Linked DNA regions of Homo sapiens. The protein of the gene in region 1 binds, or shares a complex with, the protein of each later gene. Each region holds a gene or a part of one and is shown on either strand. Other genes may lie near its edges.

Region 1 (4,012 bases):
GCACACCAGTGTGAATCACATGTGTCCCCAGTGAGTCTCTGACCCGGCGGCCAGCGCACCAGTGTGAATCACATGCGTCCCCAGTGAGTCTCTGACCCGGCGACCAGAGCACCAGTGTGAATCACATGCGTCCCCGGTGAGTCTCTGACCTGGCGGCCAGCGCACCAGTGTGAATCACACGCGTCCCCAGTGAGTCTGTGACCCGGCGGCCAGCGCACCAGTGTGAATCACATGCGTCCCCAGTGAGTCTCTGACCACGGCACCCTCAGGTGTGTCTGCCAGGAGAGGCGCCTGCCCCAGACCACAGCAGGAGCGACGGCAGCCGAGGATCGGGGAAGCCCACCCTGCTGCCGGGCATCTTTACAATGACCAGGAAGAGGCAGACAGACTCTGGAAAAAGAGCCCATTAGGACCCCGAGGTTCAGCAATCCTGTGGGGGCCCCACTCACTTGGCCACGGCCAGGAGCACATGGGGGTCATGCTCACACTTCTTCAGGGCATCCACGCTCTTGGTCCTCCTCTGGGGCCTTGCCTCGAGGAAGATGGCCTCAGACCACAGGATACCTATAATTCAGAAACAAAGAACAAAGATTTGCACTCCAGCCTCTGGTTCCGGAAAGGTGCCCAGCCTACAGATTCTAACCCGGGACGTCCTCAGACCACGACAGGGGCCTCCCACACACGGCTCGCAGAACTTGTGCAAGGAGAACCACAAAGGATGAGCACTCTGGCCCACCCAAAACCATGGCAGCCCTGAGGGCACAGACTGGACACCCTGCAGAGTCTCACTCTGTCATTCAGGGTGGAGTGCAATGGCGCAATCTCAGCTCACTGCAACCTCCCACTCCCGGGCTCAAGCAATTCTCCTGCCTCAGCCTCCCGAGTAGCTGGGATTACAGGCGCCCGCCACCATGCCCAGCTCATTTTTGTATTTTAGTAGAGACGGGGTTTCACCATGTTGGCCAGGCTGGTCTCAAGCAATGGACTCCTGGACTCAAGCAATCCTCCCGCCTCAGTCTCTCAAAGTGCTGAGATTACAGGCATGAGCCACCACACCTGGCCAATTTCTTTTAAATTTTAAAAGAAAAAGAAATGATAACACTTCAGAAATGAAATCAAATTCTCCCATTTTGAGGCCAAGAATTTCATTAAGTTGTCTTAACGGCCGAGTATAGCTGAAACTTTTGACTGAAATGATTCACACAAACTACACATTTTAATAAAGTCCGTCTGAAGCCTGAGCCCCCACTCCCTCAGGAAGTGCCAGCCCTGCGGAGTCTGGGAAGCCAGGAAGCACCCCCTTACCGGAGTCAAGGCACCCCCTTACCGGAGTCAGGGCACCCCCTTACCGGAGTCGGGGCACCCCCTTACCGGAGTTGGGGCACTCCTGCAGCGCCTTGGCCATGAGTGTATTTGCGATGTTCTTCAGCCCCGCACGGTACTCCAGCCGCACGGACTCCAACCTGAGGAGACAGGCCCCCGGAGGTCCCACAGCCGTCTACCAACAGCACATATTCTGGTAGCTTCTGGGAAGCCTTGTCTGAAAGGGCTCTCCACCCAGTCACAGCAGCAAAAACTCCATTCCCTCCACAGCAGAGCTCATCCACCACAGAAACAAGGCGCTGGGGCCCACATCCCTGCCAGCCCCACTGGCAACCGCCCCAAGGCAAGACCTCAGATCCTGACGCTGTCCAGATGCAGGTGAAGGCATCCAGAACAAACAAGACCAGACTGGGAGAGCCAGGGCCGCACAAGGCACCCAGAAGCTGCCTGTCTGCGGCAGTGCCTGCACAGTGCTCCAGCCCCGTCACCCTGAGCTGGACGCAGCACCTCCATGAACAGAGCCTGCACCTAGCAGGCTCCTGTCCACCTCCAGGGCTCTCCACGCCACCTCCTCTGTGGAGCTGGCTCTCCGGGGTCCATCCTTCCCTCGTCCCAGCCATCATTAACCCCTCCCTCTCCCAGGCGCCCTCCATCAGAACACAAATTAAACTGCATCAAACCATCTACAGGCCTGTCACAGTACCTAGGCCGAACTCTCCTAAGGCAGGGACCGTGATTTTTCATGGCCAGCACCTACCGCCCCCCAAGCCCCTGAGCCTGGAAGCACTGCACGAGTGACTCCACACAAGCAGCTGGGTGACGGCGGCCCACCTGATGGGGAAGCTGTGCCCAGAGGCCAGGCTGCCCCCTCCAGGACTCACCACAGCCCAGGGTTCTTTGGGTTCTTCAGACGAGACTTTTCCAAAATGGCCCGTGCTCGAGTAAGCTGCCCAATCTTCTCCTCCAGCCGAGAGAGCAAAAGCCACAGGGGTGTGGAGTGGGGACACTTCTTCAACTGCAACCAACAAGTAAGAGAGCAGCTCAGGTGGTGTCTATGAAGAACTGGGACACAGCCATGCCCAGCTTCTCATCTGCAGTGGGTGACCGAGTCCCTCAGGGCTGCCATGTCCATGGAAAAACACCCCTCACACTCTGCATTTGTGGGTGTACAGGTGTGCGGTGGTGCTGTGGACCTGTGCACACAGGTCTGTACGTACCAGCCTTTACTGCAGGTGTGCCACACTCTGCACTTCTGAGCAGTGTGTGCAGCTTCATATAAGGAAAAGCACAGAACTCAGCGAGGGGACCAGGGTTTGGGTCCTGAGTCTGCAGCTCCATCAGCTGTAACCCCCAGCCCTCCACATCTCCTCAGAGGCGAAGGGCAATGACCCTGCACCAGGGGGCTCAGTTTTGTGAATGCCGGGTCAGCTGCAGCCCCAGGGTGCAGGCAGAGACGTACCCCCTGGTTATAGGCTTCCCGCGCCTTCTCCATCATCTCCTTCTGCTCCTCGATCTGCCCCTTCATCATCCACAGCTTGGGGAAGTCCTCATAGTGCCGCAGGGCCTCCTCGCACAGATCTTGGGCTGCCCTGATGTTGTCTTGCACCCACTCCAGCTTCACAGACTTCATGAACACCTGTGGGGCAGACATGCACTGTCACGCAGGGCATCAGCTCCAGGGTACGTGCTTCATGGTACACTCATCCTCAACACTGTTACCTGCAGTACTGTGTGTACTTTTGTAAGCTTTTCATAGCCTGTTTGTGTACACAAAAGGTGGGGATAAATATATGTTTTTGTTTTGTTTTGTTTTTTTTTGAGATAGAGTCTCGCTCTGTCACCCAGGCTGGAGTGCAGTGGCACGATCTCGGCTCACTGCAAGCTCCACCTGCTGGGTTCACACCATTCTCCTGCCTCAGCCTCCCAAGTAGCTGGAACTACAGGTGCAAGCCACCACACCCAGCTAATTTTGTATTTTTAGCAGAGTTGGTCAGGCTGGTGTCGAACTCCTGATCTCACAATCTACCTGCCTTGGCCTCCCAAAGTGCTGGGATTACAGGCGTGAGCCACCACACCCGGCCGTATGAACATGTTTGTTGTTGTTGTTGTTGCTGAGACAGTTTCCCTCTTGCTGCCCAGGCTGGAGTGCAGTGGCGCGATCTCAGCTCACCGCAACCTCCACCCCCGGGGTTCAAGCGATTCTCCTGCCTCAGCCTCCCGAGCAGCTGGGATTACAGGCACGCACCACCACGCCCGGCTAATTTTGTATTTTTAGTAGAGACGGGGTTTCTCCATGTTGGTCAGGCTGGTCTCAAACTCCCACCCTCAGGTGATCTGTCCGCCTTGGCCTCCCAAAGTGCTGAGATTACAGGCGTGAGCCACCGCGCCCGGCCACCACGCCCGGCCACATGAATGTTTTAGTCACATCACAAAGATGAGTGTGCTGTGGTCTCGTTTGCCTGCCGTCATCTCACTCCCATCACCACCCAAGCCAGGCGTGGGGCCCGCATGTGCACACCATGCACCCCAGACGGCCCAGCCCTGCCTGCCACTGCGTACCCGGGCGGTGGGGGCACTGCTCCGCGCCTTGGCCAGCAGCCTCCGGGCCCGCTCGTACTCATCATTCTCGGACTCCAGCTTCACGGCTGCCAGCCAGATCTCCTCACTGTTGGGGTTGGCCTGAAGGGCA
Region 2 (2,795 bases), on another chromosome or scaffold:
CTGGGGAGGAGACAGGGACCCTGCGTTCATAGCGGGAATTAACAAGGGCAGAAGAGGAAAGGCGCCCGAGAGGAGCCCCACGGCACGCTCACTACCCCACAGCAAGGCTGCTCTCCGCTGGGCGCCACAGCTCACGCCTGGAACCCCAGCACTGTGGGAGGCTGAAGCAGGAGGATGGCTTGAGCCCAGGAGTTCGAGACCAGCCCGGGCAACACAGTGAGACCTCAGCTTATCTCTTTTTTTTGAGACGGAGTCTCACTCTGTTACTCAGGCTGGAGTGCAGTTGCACCATCTCGGCTCACTGCAACCTCCGCCTCCCAGGTTCAAGCGATTCTCCTGCGTCAGCCTCCCGAGCAGCTGGGATTACAGGCATGCGCCACCACACCCAGCAATTTTTTTGCATTTTTAGCGGAGACGGGGTTTCACCATGTTGGTCAGGCTGGTCTCAAACTCCTGACCTCAAGAGATCCTCCTGCCTTGGCCTCCCAAAGCGCTGGGATTATAGGTGTGAGCCATTGTGCCTGGCCTCTCACGTCACCAATTTAACAAAAATTAAAATAATAAAACATTTAAAAAGGTTGTCCTCTAACTGTGCCGGGCGCCCCGTCAGTGTGTAGAGACCAGTGGGTGAGCTGGCAGCTCCCGTCTCTCCAGGCCCCACAACAATGGGGTTTCCTGCTTTGTGAGGACGTCTAGGACCAGTGAGCGCTCAAGCCCGTCCATCGGCCGCCACGAGGCTTCACGTTGGTAACTCAGAGGTTTTGTGGGTTTGAGAGAAGAAGAGCCAGCAGGGAGCCCCACGGCTGCCCCCCTCGTCCCACTGCCCCCCTCGTCCCGCTGCCCCCCTCACCCCACTATCCCCCTCGTCCCGCTGCCTGCCTCGGCCGCCACCCCACTCACCTCGCATGTACTCAATGGTGCCGTCCAGCACAAGGTTGAGGAGTGGGTCGAAGCCCTTCAGGATTCCACTGGCTTGGAGAAATCACCGGGGGAGAGAAAAGAGAAGGCATGAGATCCGTCCTGGGCGCAGGGCCCGCCCCAGCATGGCCCAGGTATGGGGCTAACTGCTCCAGGGATGGAGGACTGAGGGTAGGAGAGGGCTCCCGGGAGTGGCCGATGACAGCCGCCTCCAGAGTGATCTCCACCACAGGCAGCAGACCACGTCTGCGGGGGGCCAGATGGCAAACACTTCTGGCCGTGTGGGCCACAGGGTGCCGGTCACAGCTGCTGGCTCGGGCTGCCTGGGTGGAGGCAGCTTCGGTAATGAGTCCATGTGTGGCTGAACTGCGGCCGGTCAGCTCTACTCACAGGCACTGAACTGTGAATTTCATGTAATTTCCACATCGTGAGACAGTCTTGTTTTGATCCCTTTCTAGCTATTTAAAAGTCATAAAAACAATTCTCAGCTCAAAAGCAGCAGCAAAACAGGCGGCGGCACGTGTACGCGGTGGGACCACCAGCCAGGAAGAGGAGCGAGGCTGGCGCAGGCCACAGCGCGGATGCGCCTGAGGACGCACCTGAGGACGTCACGCTCAGTGAGAGACGCCAGACACAGAAGGCTGCGCACCGTGAGATCCCATTTCTATGAAATGTCCAGGACAGGCCAATCCACAAAGACAGGGAAGGGATGCGTGGGTGCCAGGGCCAGGGATGGGACAGGCAGTGATGGCTGATGGGGACAGGGCTTCCTGTAGGGGAGACAGAGTGCTCCGCTCTGACAGCGGTGATGACTGCGCTGCCTGACCTGTGCTGAGTCCCTCAGTGAGTTCACGGAATACAAAAGAACAAATCCCAGCCCTGCTGCTTAGGGCTTGCGGGGAGCAGGCAACAGAGATGCTCTGAGACCCAGGTGCAAAGGCTTCGGGGGCTGAGACGGTCTCTGTGGCTTCTCTCTCCACGCTGCCTGCCCCACCCCTCAAGCTTCGCCGCCTTGGGCCACAACTTGCCAACTTAGGTTAGGGCTCTCTGACCCGGTGGTGATCTCTGCCATCTGATCCTGCTCCGCAGTGTCTGGTGACACTGAGAAGGGTGAAGGGGGAGCTGTGTGTCCCCAGCAGAGGCCAGCCCACCCTCTCTGCCTGGGACTCCCCTCCACTGCCCTGCAGGCTCCTGCAGCCGAGGCCCAGCAGCAGCTCCACCTCTGCGCTCACTGAGGGGCGTCCCGCAGCCACCCCCTCCCTGCTCTCCTTCTTACCCCTGTCATCTTTCAGGTGCTTCCTCCAGACACCAACCCACAGCCCTTACGGTGCTGCCCTCTGCACGCCCACGCCAATCTCAGGAAGCAGGCACCACCAATCTCGGGAAGCAGGCACCACCAATCTCGGGAAGCAGGCACCCCGGGCATTATTCTGCCTGCCTGTCTCCTCCCAAGGCAGGGCCGAGAGCCCGTCCACGGCTGCTCCACACACACCGAGGGCCGCCCTGTGCGGTGGTGCGGGGGAGGGTCTGCAAACTACGACCCCCAGGTGAACCTGCCCGCCGCTCCTCTCTGTAAGTCAGAGTCTCGCTGGCCCACCACCACACTCGCCCGCTCAGGCGCTGACCAGGGTGGCTCTCCTGCTCTGCTGGCATAGCTCAGTGGTTGTGACAGAGACCATCTGGGCTGCAAAGCTAAAGATATTTGCCGTCTGGCCTTCTACAGAGAAGGTCTGCCCGCCTGCATACAAGCTTCCGTCCACCTCCACAGGCTTCAGCTTCCACCTCCACGGCTCCCTCTCTCTTTGCTCAAGTCCCTCCCCTGCAAAATGAAACTCACCTATAAGATGGGGTCAGATGCAGATGTTCAGGTCCTTGGC
Region 3 (4,012 bases), on another chromosome or scaffold:
CGGGAGATCACTACACACCTGCTAGATTGGGCAAAATGGTAAGACTGACAACACCAAATGTTAACAGGGATGTGAAGTAACCAGAACTCCGGGAATGTAAAATGGTGTAACCGCTTTGGAAAACTGGTGGGGAGTTTAGAAAAAGTTAAATATACATCTCATACCTCTACCCTATGACCCAGCAATTGTACTCATGTCCACAAAAAGCCTGGTACAAGAATATTTATAGCAGCTTCATTCTGACTGGCCCAGACCTGGAAACAGCCCAAGTGTCCATCAACAGGAGAATGGATAAACTATGGCACAGTCATAAAAATGAATAACCCCCAGCAATAAAAAGGAATTACTGATACATGCAACAACATGAATGACTCTTAACAATGTTATGCTGAAAGAAGCCTGCCACAAATGAATTCACAGTATGAATAGACATAATTAATTTGTGGTGATAGAAGTCAGATCAGCAGTTGCTTTAGAAGGGGGAGTTGGCTGGAAAAGGGCATGAGGGACCTTTCTGGGGTGATGGACTATTCTCTATATTGACAGAGGTGTCGATCACAGGAATGGTACGCGTTTGTAAAGACTGACAGCATTGTACACTTAAAATAAATCCATTCCATTGTATGTAAATTATAACTTAATGGAAAAGTTCTCTAACAGATTCTAGCCTCCCTGAACTTACAGAACCAGGAAGGGAGACTTATATACCTGTAGCATTGGACAAGAGTGAAAATCCTTGTTTTCTGGTAATTTGTAACTCTGAAATTTCAGATTAATTGTAATTTAAAGGCAAATATGGCTGGGCGCGTTACCTGTTATCTATAATCCCAGCACTTTGGGAGGCTGAGGCGGGAAGATCACCTGAGGTCAGGAGTTTAAGACCAGCCTGGCCAACATGGTGAAACCCTGTCTCTACTAAAAATAAAAAAATTAGCTGGGCATGGTGGCACGCGCCTGTAGTCCCAGCTACTCGGGAGGTCGAGGCAGGAGAATTGCTTGAACCCGGGAGACGGCGGTTGCAGTGAGCCGAGATCGCGCCACTGCACTCCAGCCTGGGTGACAGAGTGAGACTCCACCTCAAAAAAAAAAAAAAGGCAAATATACTTAGCTCTCACTATATTAAACATTCTCCTCTGATTCCAATTCCCTGCAGCCCAAGAAAATCCTACCTGAAGATCTCTGCTCTAAAAATTTACCTGGCAGATAGCCATAAAGGGTTAAGAAGATGCTACAGGCCTATATGGATAAAACAATAACAGGATGGCTCACCAGGTGGTGCCCAGGAAACGTCCTGAAGGATGCCACATTACCCGCGCCACACGCACTGTATGGCCTTCAATATCTGCCACTGGTTCATCACTGGAAAGGAACCAAACATATAAACAATTTTATAGACATATAAATAGTCACAAAACTGCTTACCTTCTGTGCAGACATACCCATTCTGTACAACACGAGAGGCTAAATTGTAACTACACTTGTAAACTACTTTGGCCCAATAAGCAAAATAGTCATTCTGCACCAAAGGAGTACCTGGATTCTAGAAAGAAAACATGCTTTGGAAGAGATATAAGGACACAGAAATCACATAGTTTTGGTACAAGTGGATTACAGATAAACCTTTTTCAAATTTAGGCCTGTTCCAAGATCCAAATGAAAAAGGAACTCCTAAATAGAGATGAGGCTTAGTCTCCTTTTGGTGGCCATTAAATTCTGCTACCCAGCAACCACCAAAAGATCTGAACATCAGCAAAAGGAAATAAACATGAACTCTAAGGAACGCAATTAAAAAGGGAACTTTGTCAATGTGCATACACAGAACAAGCCAAAGCCCAAGGGGAATAAACATTGCTAAGTATTACCAAAGCCAATTAAAACTCACTGCGCTCCTAAGTGAGACCCTGTCTGGTGAGGAGTGAAGACATTAATTAGCTCTCATAAAAATTCTCAAGTAAAAACCTTCATGTGTTTTCCCAAAGAAAGAAAACTAAACAATTAAATTCAGATGCCTTTTGGCCAACAGGGTGCTTCCGAAGTTTTTTTTTTTTTGGAAAACAATCACATAAACACATTTTTAAAAACTGTTGTAGTTGGAAAATACATTCTAGGTAAAGGATGATGCTATTGCGAGGAGACATCTCCGTGGTAATACTGCTAGACAGAACCTCACTTTCCTCTCCCCTGTGGCTGTTTGCTAAGAACCAACGAACTGCCAAGAATATTATATTTAGTTCATTGTTAATTTATCATGTAGGAGGTAGGCTGGATCTTTCTGGAATAAATGGAGCTAGGAAATAGTGGTCACTAGGCTATAGACAAAAATCAAGATCCAAAGTTAACAGGTAAGAAAAAACGGACATAACTCCTTTAGTAAGAAAAGGCCTAAGAATGAAATCTTCCACTTACTTCATTTTCACACTAGGTTACCTTGACTCTTAAACCATCTTGGGGGTTAAATGCCAGATTTTTTTTTTTGTTCTTTCAAGACGGAGTCTTGCTCTGTCACCCAAGCTGGAGTGCAGTGTGCAATCTCGGCTCACCACAACCTCCATTTCCCGGGTTTAAGCAATTCTCCTGCCTCAGCCTTAAGGTGTGAGCCACTGCGCATGGCCTAAATGCCAGATTTTTACTGAGGTCCTGGGGACCAACCAATCAAACATCTACTTTAGTGATGGCAGTATGGGCCACAGAACAGTGATATTCACCTGTCGAGACTCCAAAGCTTCACAGAGCCATCAGCCGCACAAGAGGCCAGGTTGACATCTTTTGGGTCCAAGGAGACAGTGGATTTGGGATGGAATACAATTGCTCCTACATTTGTGTTATGCCCTAAAGGAGTGTAAGAGATGCAAGTTAAAAGGTTCCTGCCTCTTTATAACCCATGTTATATACTAGGGAACATGTGGACATACAGAGTATTCAAGTGACTATTCAACTATTAAAACATGAACTATTTTAATTTAAGCTAATATTTAAATTACATTTTTAAAAAAGCAAAACACAAAAAAACCCATTTTGGTTTTTGGTTTAGAGATTATAAAATGCCAGAGTGTGACTGCACATGAGAGAAAAGTGGATGTGTAGGAAGTTGTGATAGTCCAGTCTTGCAGCCAGAGAAAACCAAGTCAAATCAAATCAAGGATTAATGCTGTGTGTATGGGGTCTGAGTGTCAAGCAGAGTTTAAGGCTTAACTGAGTTCACACTGGGAAAAAGACCGAGATTTGGATAAGACTCTAACTTACCTCGAAGAGTGTGAAGGAGGTTGCAATCAGGAACAGACCAGAGCTTGCAAAGCCCACTCCTATCAAATACAAAGGAAAGCATCTCAGCCAGGGTTGGTCTGGGAAGGAAAAGGTACCTTGGTAATATTACTAAAGGACAATCTCTTCTCACCCCCAATAAACTTTACAATGGCTGACAGAAAAATAAAAGCCTTATAGTTAGAAGGGTTATAGAAGAAAAAGCTACCTCCAGCCCACACGCAACCAGAGGCTTTTACTGGACTATAATTAACACTACACCAGTAGCCATTCTCCTTAACTTTTGGATCCACTTGTGAGGGAAGGTGGGGCAAATTAAACTATCCAATAATACGAATATTAATAGTGATACTGTCCTTAAATATGAATAGTATTTTGCTGATTACAAAGTATTTAAATTTTTTTTTTGAGAAACAGTGTCACTCTGTCACCTAGGCTGGAGTGCAGTAGTGTGATCACAGTTCACTGCAGCCTCAACCTCCCAGGCTCAAGCAATTCTATCACCCAGCCTCCTGAGTAGCTGGGACTAACAGGCGCATGCCACCACACCTGGCTAACGTTTTAAAAAATTAAATAAATTTTTAAAAATTTTTTGGGCCAGGCGCTGTGGCTCACACCTGTAATCCCAGCACTTTGGGAGGCCAAGGCGGGCAGATCACAAGGTCAGGAGATCGAGCCCATCCTGGCTAACACGGTGAAACCCTGTCTCTACTAAAAATACAAAAAATTAGCTGGGTGCGGTGGCGGGTGC
Region 4 (4,012 bases), on another chromosome or scaffold:
AAGGAGAGATGTAAACTGCATGGCAAGGAGTTGAAGGCAGGCTCCAACATACAAAAAGACAATCTGCAAAGACTGGGAGAATTTTTGTTCTTGTTGTTGTAGGTAATTTAGGAAACTTGTGTCATTCACTAGCTGACCACTAAGCTAACGAAAAAAAGAATTCAGTGGTCACACAGGACAAAGAATACAAACTTTACAAAATTAGTTCAAAAATTCACTAAACAGGCCGGGCATGGTGGCTTACACCTGTAATCCCAGCATTTTGGGAGGCCGAGGTGGATGGATCACTTGAGGTCAGGAGTTCAAGACCAGCGTGGCTAACATGGTAAAACCTTGTTTCTACTAAAAATACAAAAATTAGCTGGTCATGGTGGTGTGCCCCTGTAACCCCAGCTACTCAGGAAGCTGAGGTGCAAGAATCACTTGAACCCGGGGAGTGGAGGTTGCAGTGAGCCAAGATCGCACTACTGCACTCCAGCCTGGGCTACAGAGCGAGACTTCGTCTCAAAAACCAACCAACCAACCACTCTCACCTTACCCCAACCCACAGAAAGTCACTAAACAAACAACTACAATAAGCAGCTCTGGGGACCTAATTTCCAGAGTCACCACGCTATAATATTTAAATGCCTAGTTTTCAACAAAATATAAGGCATGCAAAGAAGCAAGTAACTATGGTCCATATAGAAGGAAAAAGTAGTCTTCTCAACAAATTGTGCTAAGACAACTGGCTAACCACATGCCAAAGAATGAAGGTAAGCCCCTGCCTAACATGATACACAAAAATTAATTCAACATGGATCAAGGACCTAAATGTAAGAGCTAAAACTATAAAATTCTTAGAGGGCCAGGTATGGTGGCTCATGCCTGTAACCCCAGCACTTTCGGAGGCCGAGGCCAGGAGGATGGCTTTAGCCCAGAGTTAGCGACCAGCCTGAGCAACATGGTGATTCCTCATCTCTACAAAATAAAAACAAAAAGTTGGGTGTGGTGGTATATGCCTATAGTCCCAGCTACTTGGGAGGCTGAGATGGGAGGATCGCTTGGGCCAGAGAGGTTGAGGCTGCAGTGAGCCGTGATTGCGGATCTGTACTCCAGCCTGGGTGAGAGTGGCGGCATCTCGGCTCACTGCAACCTCTGCTTCCGTGTTCCAGCAATTCTCCTGCTTTAGCCTCCTGGATAGCTGGGATTACAGGCATGCGCCACCACGCCCAGCTAATTTTTCTATTTTTAGAAGAGACGGGGGTTTCACCATGTTGGCCAGGCTGGTCTCGAACTCCTGACCTCAGGTGATCCACCCACCTTGGCCTCCCAAAGTGGTGGGATTACAGGCGTGAGCCACTGCACCCGGCCAAGACCCCATCTCTTAAACAAACAAACCCTTATAGCTCTACTTTTTTAAAGCGTGGATAACACAGAGAGGGCTCAGAGATGTTTCAATAAATGAATGACACACTTGAGAAGATGAACCACAAGTAAATGATTTAAAAGTATGGGTCGTTTCATTCAGAAGAAAGAGACTTTGGGATGACTGTTCCAAGTTTTAAAGGGCTGGCATCAAAAAGAAAGGAATCAGCCATGGAACTTTAGGGAAGGTCATAGGCTTAACTTCAATCCTGTAGTCAACAAGGAGAGTCTGAGTAGGATCTGTGCCAAGATGCCTCTTCCTCCCAATTCTCATGGTTTAGGATGAAAAGTAGTTTCTTCTTTGTTCATGTAAATACGAACTAAAAATTAGTTCATTACTCAGATAAATGGTCTAAAAAGAACGCTTCACTCCTCTCCTACATGCCCAACATCTCCTACTCCCCCAACTCCTGTGGTTACAGAATCAAGTCCAAACTTCTTAACCTGGAATTCAAGGCCTTAATAATTTAGATCCTATATATTTTATAAACTGTACTATAATCTTTGTCTCAATAGATACTTCACTCAGGTCAAATCTATCTTTGTCTTTCTCCTAAAAGTCATGGTAGTCAAAGTTTGTTTAAAATAATTTAGAATTTTAGTTCCAGATAACTACCACTTTTAATAATTATTTTACTTTGAAGCAATCATAAATTTATAGAAAACTTGGAAGTAAAAAGAACACTTTTTTTGGTCTAAATCATTTGAGAGTAAGTTGCTTACCCAATGCCTTATCACCTTTTTTTTTTTTTTGAGATGGGAGTCTCACTCTGTCTGTTGCTCATTCTGGAGTGCAGTGGCGTGATCTCCGCTCACTGCAACCTCCACCTCCCGGGTTCAAGCAATTCTTCCTCAGCCTCCTGAGTAGCTGGTATTACAGGCATCTGCCACCATGCCCGGCTTTTTTGTATTTTTAGTAGAGACAGGGTTTCTTCAAGTTGGCCAGGCTGGTTTCAAACTCCCGACCTCAAGTGATCCACCTGCCTAGGCCTCCCAAAGTGCTAGGATTACAGGCATAAGCCACTGCACCTGGCCCCTTATCACTCCTAAATAGTGTCTGTCCTACAAAGATGTTCTCCTACATCATCTCAACATAACCATCAAAATCAAGAAATACAGATACACTATCACCATTTTATCCTCAAATCCCACTCAAGTTTTACCAGTTATCCCAAATGTCTTATTGCACAAGGATTCAGTCTGGAATCATATGTTAAATTTAGACTCCAGTCTGCAAGACTCTCTCAAACTTTCCTTGAGTTTTATGAACTCAACACTTCTGAAAGTTACAGGTCATCATCCCCAATTTAGGTTTGTCTTATGTTTCCTCTTGATTAGATTTAAGTTATACATCTTTGGTAGGAATATCACAGAAATGATGCTGCATCTTTGTTGTATCCTAGCAAATGGTTCATGATTTTGTCTTGTCCCATTACTAATTAGGTCGATTTGATAATTTAGTTAGGATGTTCTTTTGACAAAATAAGCCTTGACAAGTACAAGGCTTATCTTGTACTTTCACTGCCCCTGGGCTGAAATAGGAGCCCTGGTTCCTTTTAATGGAAAACAGTACCTGTGCAGTAAGGGGTGCTATTGCTATTGGGGTCTTGTTGCTCCTAAACCTTTTCAGTGGACAGTCAGGCAATATATGTACATTTAGGTACACACACACACACACTCACACATTTATGTCTATTTTTTTCTATATGTTTCTATATTGAATATTGTGAGTTCACACTTATACCTCACACAAGATTCATTTTAGTCTTCTCTTTTGTACTGGTAACTCTGTTCTTGGACAGAGAAATCAGCCTCCCATTAAATTCAATATATTCACTTATTTGATTATGCTTCCTGCATGCAACCAGTTTCCCATATTCTCTTCCACCCTTCCCTACTTGAATTGTGATTCCCATTCTTGGTTGAAGCCATGTGTGACTCTTCCTTAACCAACTTGGGTCATTCCTCTGTGTGAACACCCTCATCACTCTGCTACGGCTCTTTTCCAGTCTGCACTTCTCCAAGCATGCAGTCATCATCTTGCTCAGTCTCAGACTCCCTACACCAAATCATTTCTACCCTGTGTGGATGCCCTCAGTTCAGGCTTTGACATCCACATTCTCCCCGTACTGCTTCACGTACAGGCGACCCTTTCACCCCATTAGGGCACTGTTGGGCTGCTGCCCCTCCCTCACCCTCAAATTCCCCACACTGGTTACCTACCCTGTGTTGTATGGATGCCTTCCTCACTCTCTGACTACTCCCTACAATGTACTGCCCTGCCCAGTGTGGATGCTCTCCTTACCACACTTGTGCTCTGACACTCTACTCTGGGCCACCTTGGCCCATCTCTAACTAGAGCACCTTCCCTGCTTTGGCCTATATAACTGGCTTTAGGACTGAACTGCTCATGAAAGGGAAATTTATATATATATGAGTACATACACACATACACGCAGTATTTCACTTAATTTTATTAGAAGAATGCACTTGATAAAAAGTTTGAAAACGATCTGTATGAATAATGCCCAGAATGCTTTTAGACTAAAAATGCAAGTGCTGTTGGAAACCTTTGCTTTCTGTTAAGAACTCTGACATGTAAAAA
Region 5 (4,012 bases), on another chromosome or scaffold:
GGCGAGATCGAGCCACTGCACTCCAGCCTGGGTGACAGAGTGAGACTCCATCTCAAGAAAAATAAATAAATAAAAATAATCGTAATAAATAGCAGTTTTAAAAACGTCCTTATCTTGCCAAAAATAAAGTTGGCAGTTCTCTGCCCCAATTTTTGTAAAATTCTGAAAGTCTTTAAAACCCAGCGTCTAGGCCATGTGCGGTGGCTCATGCCTATAATCCCAGAACTTTAGGAGGCCAAGGTGGGCGGATCACTTGAGGCCAGGACTTCAAGACCAGCCTGGCCAACACGGCGAATCCCCATCTCTACTAAAAATACAAAAATTGGCCGGGCGTGGTGGCTCACGCCTATAATCTCAGCACTTTGGGAGGCCGAGGCGGGTGGATCACGAGGTCAGGAGATCGAGACCATCCTGGCTAACACGGTGAAACCCCGTCTCTACTAAAAATACAAAAAATTAGCCGGGCATGGTGGCGGGCACCTGTAGTCCCAGCTACTTGGGAGGCTGAGGTAGAAAAATGGCGTGAACTGGGAGGCAGAGCTTGCAGTGAGCGGAGATCACACCACTACACTCCAGCCTGGGTGACAAAGCAAGACTCCGTCTCAAAAAAAAAAAAATACAAAAATTAGCTGGGCATTGTGGTGTGCACCTGTAATCCCAGCTACTCAGGAGGTGAGGCACGAGAATCACTTGAACCCAGGAGGAAAAAAAAAATTTAAAAATAAAATATAAAAATACAAAAATTAGCTGTGTGTGGTGCATGCCTGTAGTCCCAGGTATACAGGAGGCTGAGGCACGAGAATCATTTGAACACAGGAGGTAGAGGTTGCAGTGAGCCAAGATCATGCCACTGCATTCCAGCCTCGGTGACAGAGTAAGGATCTGTCTCAAAAAAAAAAAAAAAAAAAAAAGACCCACTTAAATATGCTCTAGGAAATTAATTTAAATGAACTAGTACTAGGCAATCATTATTTTTTTTGAGACAGAGGGTGAGTCTCTGCCTAATAACAAAAACAAAAACAAACACCCAGTATCTGAAACCCACTGCCTCAGTAATGTTCTCACCATATTGCTAGCTGCTGAAAAACATTTGACAGCACCCCACCATCTCCAGCAGTGAAATAACATTTGGGAATTGTACAAAGTGGTGTCATTTTATTAAGTCCCTTAAGGAGGGGGAGATACATAGCACAAAAGTGGTCTGACAACAAACATAAGAGAAAGAACTTTTGGCCAGGCGTGGTGGCTCACACCTGTGATCCCAGCACTTTGGGAGGCTGAGGCAGGAGGATCACTTGAGGTCAGGAGTTTGAGGCCAGCCTGGCCAACATGGTGAAACCCCATCCCTACTAAAAATACAAAAAATTAGCTGGGAGTGGTGGCATGCACCGGTAATCCCAGCTATTCGGGAGGCTGAGGTGGAAGAATCACTTGAACCCAGGAGGCAGAGGTTGCAGTGAGCCAAGATCGCGCCACCGCACTCCAGCCAGGGCAACAGAGTGAGACCCTGTCTCAAGGAAAAAAAAGGAGAAAGATCTTCTTTCTCATCCCAACAGAAAAGTCACTTTAAAGCCACACACATATTGGCTCACACCTGTAGTCACTGCACTTTGAGAGGCTGAGGTGGGAGGATCACTTGAGTCCAGGAGTTCAAGACCAGCCTGGGCAACACGGCCGAGACTCTGTCTCTATGAAAAATTTTAAAAATAATATAAAAAGGCCGGGTGCAGTGGCTCACGTCTGTAATCCCAGCACTTTGGGAGGCCGAGGCAGGTGGATCACGAGGTCAGGAGTTCAAGACCAGCCTGACGAAGATGGTGAAACCCGATGTCTACTAAAAATACAAAAATTAGCCAGGTATGGTGGCAGGCACTTGTAATCCCAGCTACTTGGGAGACTGAGGCAGGAGAATCACTTGAACCCAGGCAGCAGAGGTTGCAGTGACCCGAGATCATGCCACTGCACTCCAACCTGGGTGACAGAGTGAGACCCCATCTCAAACAAAAATAAATAAATAAATAGAAAAAAAAGAAGGCTGGGCGCAGTGGCTCACACCTGTAATCACAGTACTTTGGGAGGCCGAGGTGGGCAGATCACAAGGTCAGGAGATTGAGACCATCCTGGCCAACGTGGTGAAACCCCTTCTCTACTAAAAATACAAAAATTAGCTGGGCGTGGTGGTGCATGCATATAATCCCAGCTACTCGGGAGGCTGAGGCAGGATAATCACTTGAACCAGGGAGTCGGAGGTTACAGCACCACTGCACTCCAGCCTGGCGTAGACTCGACCAGAGCGAGACTCGTCTCAATAAAAAAAAGAAAAAAGAAAAAGAAAAGAAATGTTACTACGGCCGGGTGCAGTGGCTCACACTTGTAATCCCAGTACTTTGGGAGGCTGGGGTGGGCAGATCACGAGGTCAGGAGTTGGGAGACCAGCCTGGCCAACATGGTGAAACCCTGTCTCTACTGAAGATACAAAAAATGAGCCAGGCGTTGTGGCGCATGCCTGTAATCCCAGCTACCAGGGAGGCTGAGGCAGGAGAATCACTTGAACCCGGGAGGCAGAGGTTGCGGTGAGCCGAGATCACGCCATTGCACTCCAGCCTGGGCGACAGGGCAAGACTCTGTCTCAAAAACAAAATAAAATAAAAAAAATAAAGGTACTTTAGGGCCTAGGGTTATAACACAACAGTTAGGCTTCCCATGTAAAAGGCCCAGGAAGGAGAAAAGAGGAGAATCAAAAACAAGTCATCACACCAAATTGCCTAAGACTGATAGTGATTACCGTACTTGTCTTGCTCTGTGGCCCCAATCTATACACATCAATATCACTTGCATTGCCAGTGCTACAAATGGAAACCTGTGTTCTAAAACGCAAAGGCCCTTAAGTCCCTCTCCTCACCATTCCCTGCCCTGTCAACGTGTAACCCATGAAAAAATTATCTCACATAGAAATGTGGAAGACAGCCAGACACAGTGGCACACACCTGTAATTCCAGCACTTTGGGAGGCCAAGGTGGCAGGACTGCTTGAGCCCAAGAGTTTCAGACTAGCCTCGGCAACACAGTGAGACTCTGCCTCTCCAAATAATTAAAAAATTAGCTGGGCATGGTGGCATATAGCCCCAGCTATTCAGGAGGCTGAGTGAGCTATGGTGGTGCCACTGCACTACAGCCTGGACAACAGAGTGAGACCCCCATCTCAAAAAAATAAATGTGGAAGACGCTTTTGGGAAGAGAATACAATTGATCCCATCTTTCTAAAGGATAATGAGGTAACAGGTATCAATATTTTAAATGTACTTTTTTTTTTTTTTTGAGATGGAGTCTCAGTCTGTCGCCCAGGCTGGAGTGCAGTGGCCTGATCTCAGCTCACTACAACGTCCGCCTCCCGGGTTCATGTGATTCTCCAGCCTCAGGCTCCTGAGCAGCTAGGATTACAGGCGCACAACACAACATCTGGCTAATTTTTGTATTTTTAGTAGAGATGGAGTTTCACCATGTTGGCCAAGCTAGTCTCAAACTCGTGACCTCAGGCATCCACCCGCCTCGACTTCCCAAAGTGCTGGGATTACAGGTATGAGCCACCGCATCTGGCCTAAATGTACATATTATTTAAAGGACTGTACAGATAAGTACAGGGCCAGGTGTGCTGGCTCATGCGCGTAACCCCAGCACTTTGGGAAGCTGAAGCAAGAGGACTGCTTGAACTCAAAGAATTTGAAACCAGCCTGAGCAACAAAGTGAGGCACTGTCTCTAATTTTTAAATAAATAAATATTATTTTAAGAAAGAAAGTAGGACTAGGCGCAGTGGCTCACGCCTGTAATCCCAACACTTTGAGAGGCTGAGGCAGGTGGATCACAAGGTCGAGAGTTCAAGACCAGCCTGGCCTAGATGGTGAAACTCCATCTCTACTAAAAATACAAAATTTAGCCGGGCATGGTGGTGGGCACTTGTAATCACAGCTACTAGGGAGGCTGAGGCAGAGAATTGCTTGAACCCAGGAGGCAG

The links.
Region 2: PRPF6 (region 1) and LSM7 share a complex: the UniProt entries of both Homo sapiens proteins name them as parts of the U4/U6-U5 tri-snRNP complex.
Region 3: PRPF6 (region 1) and PRPF4 share a complex: the UniProt entries of both Homo sapiens proteins name them as parts of the U4/U6-U5 tri-snRNP complex.
Region 4: PRPF6 (region 1) and SNRNP40 share a complex: the UniProt entries of both Homo sapiens proteins name them as parts of the U4/U6-U5 tri-snRNP complex.
Region 5: PRPF6 (region 1) and LSM2 share a complex: the UniProt entries of both Homo sapiens proteins name them as parts of the U4/U6-U5 tri-snRNP complex.

The regions. Positions count from the first base shown.
Region 1 is NC_000020.11:64,025,929-64,029,940, reverse strand, and holds part of PRPF6 (pre-mRNA-processing factor 6), read right to left. Parts: intron 4,003-4,012; coding exon 3,883-4,002; intron 2,960-3,882; coding exon 2,783-2,959; intron 2,339-2,782; coding exon 2,205-2,338; intron 1,464-2,204; coding exon 1,372-1,463; intron 565-1,371; coding exon 450-564; exon of another isoform or gene 256-449; intron 150-255; exon of another isoform or gene 1-149. UniProt on the Homo sapiens protein: Involved in pre-mRNA splicing as component of the U4/U6-U5 tri-snRNP complex, one of the building blocks of the spliceosome.
Region 2 is NC_000019.10:2,323,225-2,326,019, forward strand, and holds part of LSM7 (U6 snRNA-associated Sm-like protein LSm7), read right to left. Parts: intron 973-2,795; coding exon 901-972; intron 1-900. UniProt on the Homo sapiens protein: Plays a role in pre-mRNA splicing as component of the U4/U6-U5 tri-snRNP complex that is involved in spliceosome assembly, and as component of the precatalytic spliceosome (spliceosome B complex).
Region 3 is NC_000009.12:113,285,522-113,289,533, reverse strand, and holds part of PRPF4 (U4/U6 small nuclear ribonucleoprotein Prp4), read right to left. Parts: intron 3,342-4,012; exon of another isoform or gene 3,326-3,341; coding exon of another isoform or gene 3,303-3,325; coding exon 3,244-3,302; intron 2,830-3,243; coding exon 2,706-2,829; intron 1,360-2,705; coding exon 1,270-1,359; intron 1-1,269. UniProt on the Homo sapiens protein: Plays a role in pre-mRNA splicing as component of the U4/U6-U5 tri-snRNP complex that is involved in spliceosome assembly, and as component of the precatalytic spliceosome (spliceosome B complex).
Region 4 is NC_000001.11:31,283,097-31,287,108, forward strand, and holds part of SNRNP40 (U5 small nuclear ribonucleoprotein 40 kDa protein), read right to left. Parts: intron 1-4,012. UniProt on the Homo sapiens protein: Required for pre-mRNA splicing as component of the activated spliceosome. Component of the U5 small nuclear ribonucleoprotein (snRNP) complex and the U4/U6-U5 tri-snRNP complex, building blocks of the spliceosome.
Region 5 is NC_000006.12:31,800,282-31,804,293, forward strand, and holds part of LSM2 (U6 snRNA-associated Sm-like protein LSm2), read right to left. Parts: intron 1-4,012. UniProt on the Homo sapiens protein: Plays a role in pre-mRNA splicing as component of the U4/U6-U5 tri-snRNP complex that is involved in spliceosome assembly, and as component of the precatalytic spliceosome (spliceosome B complex).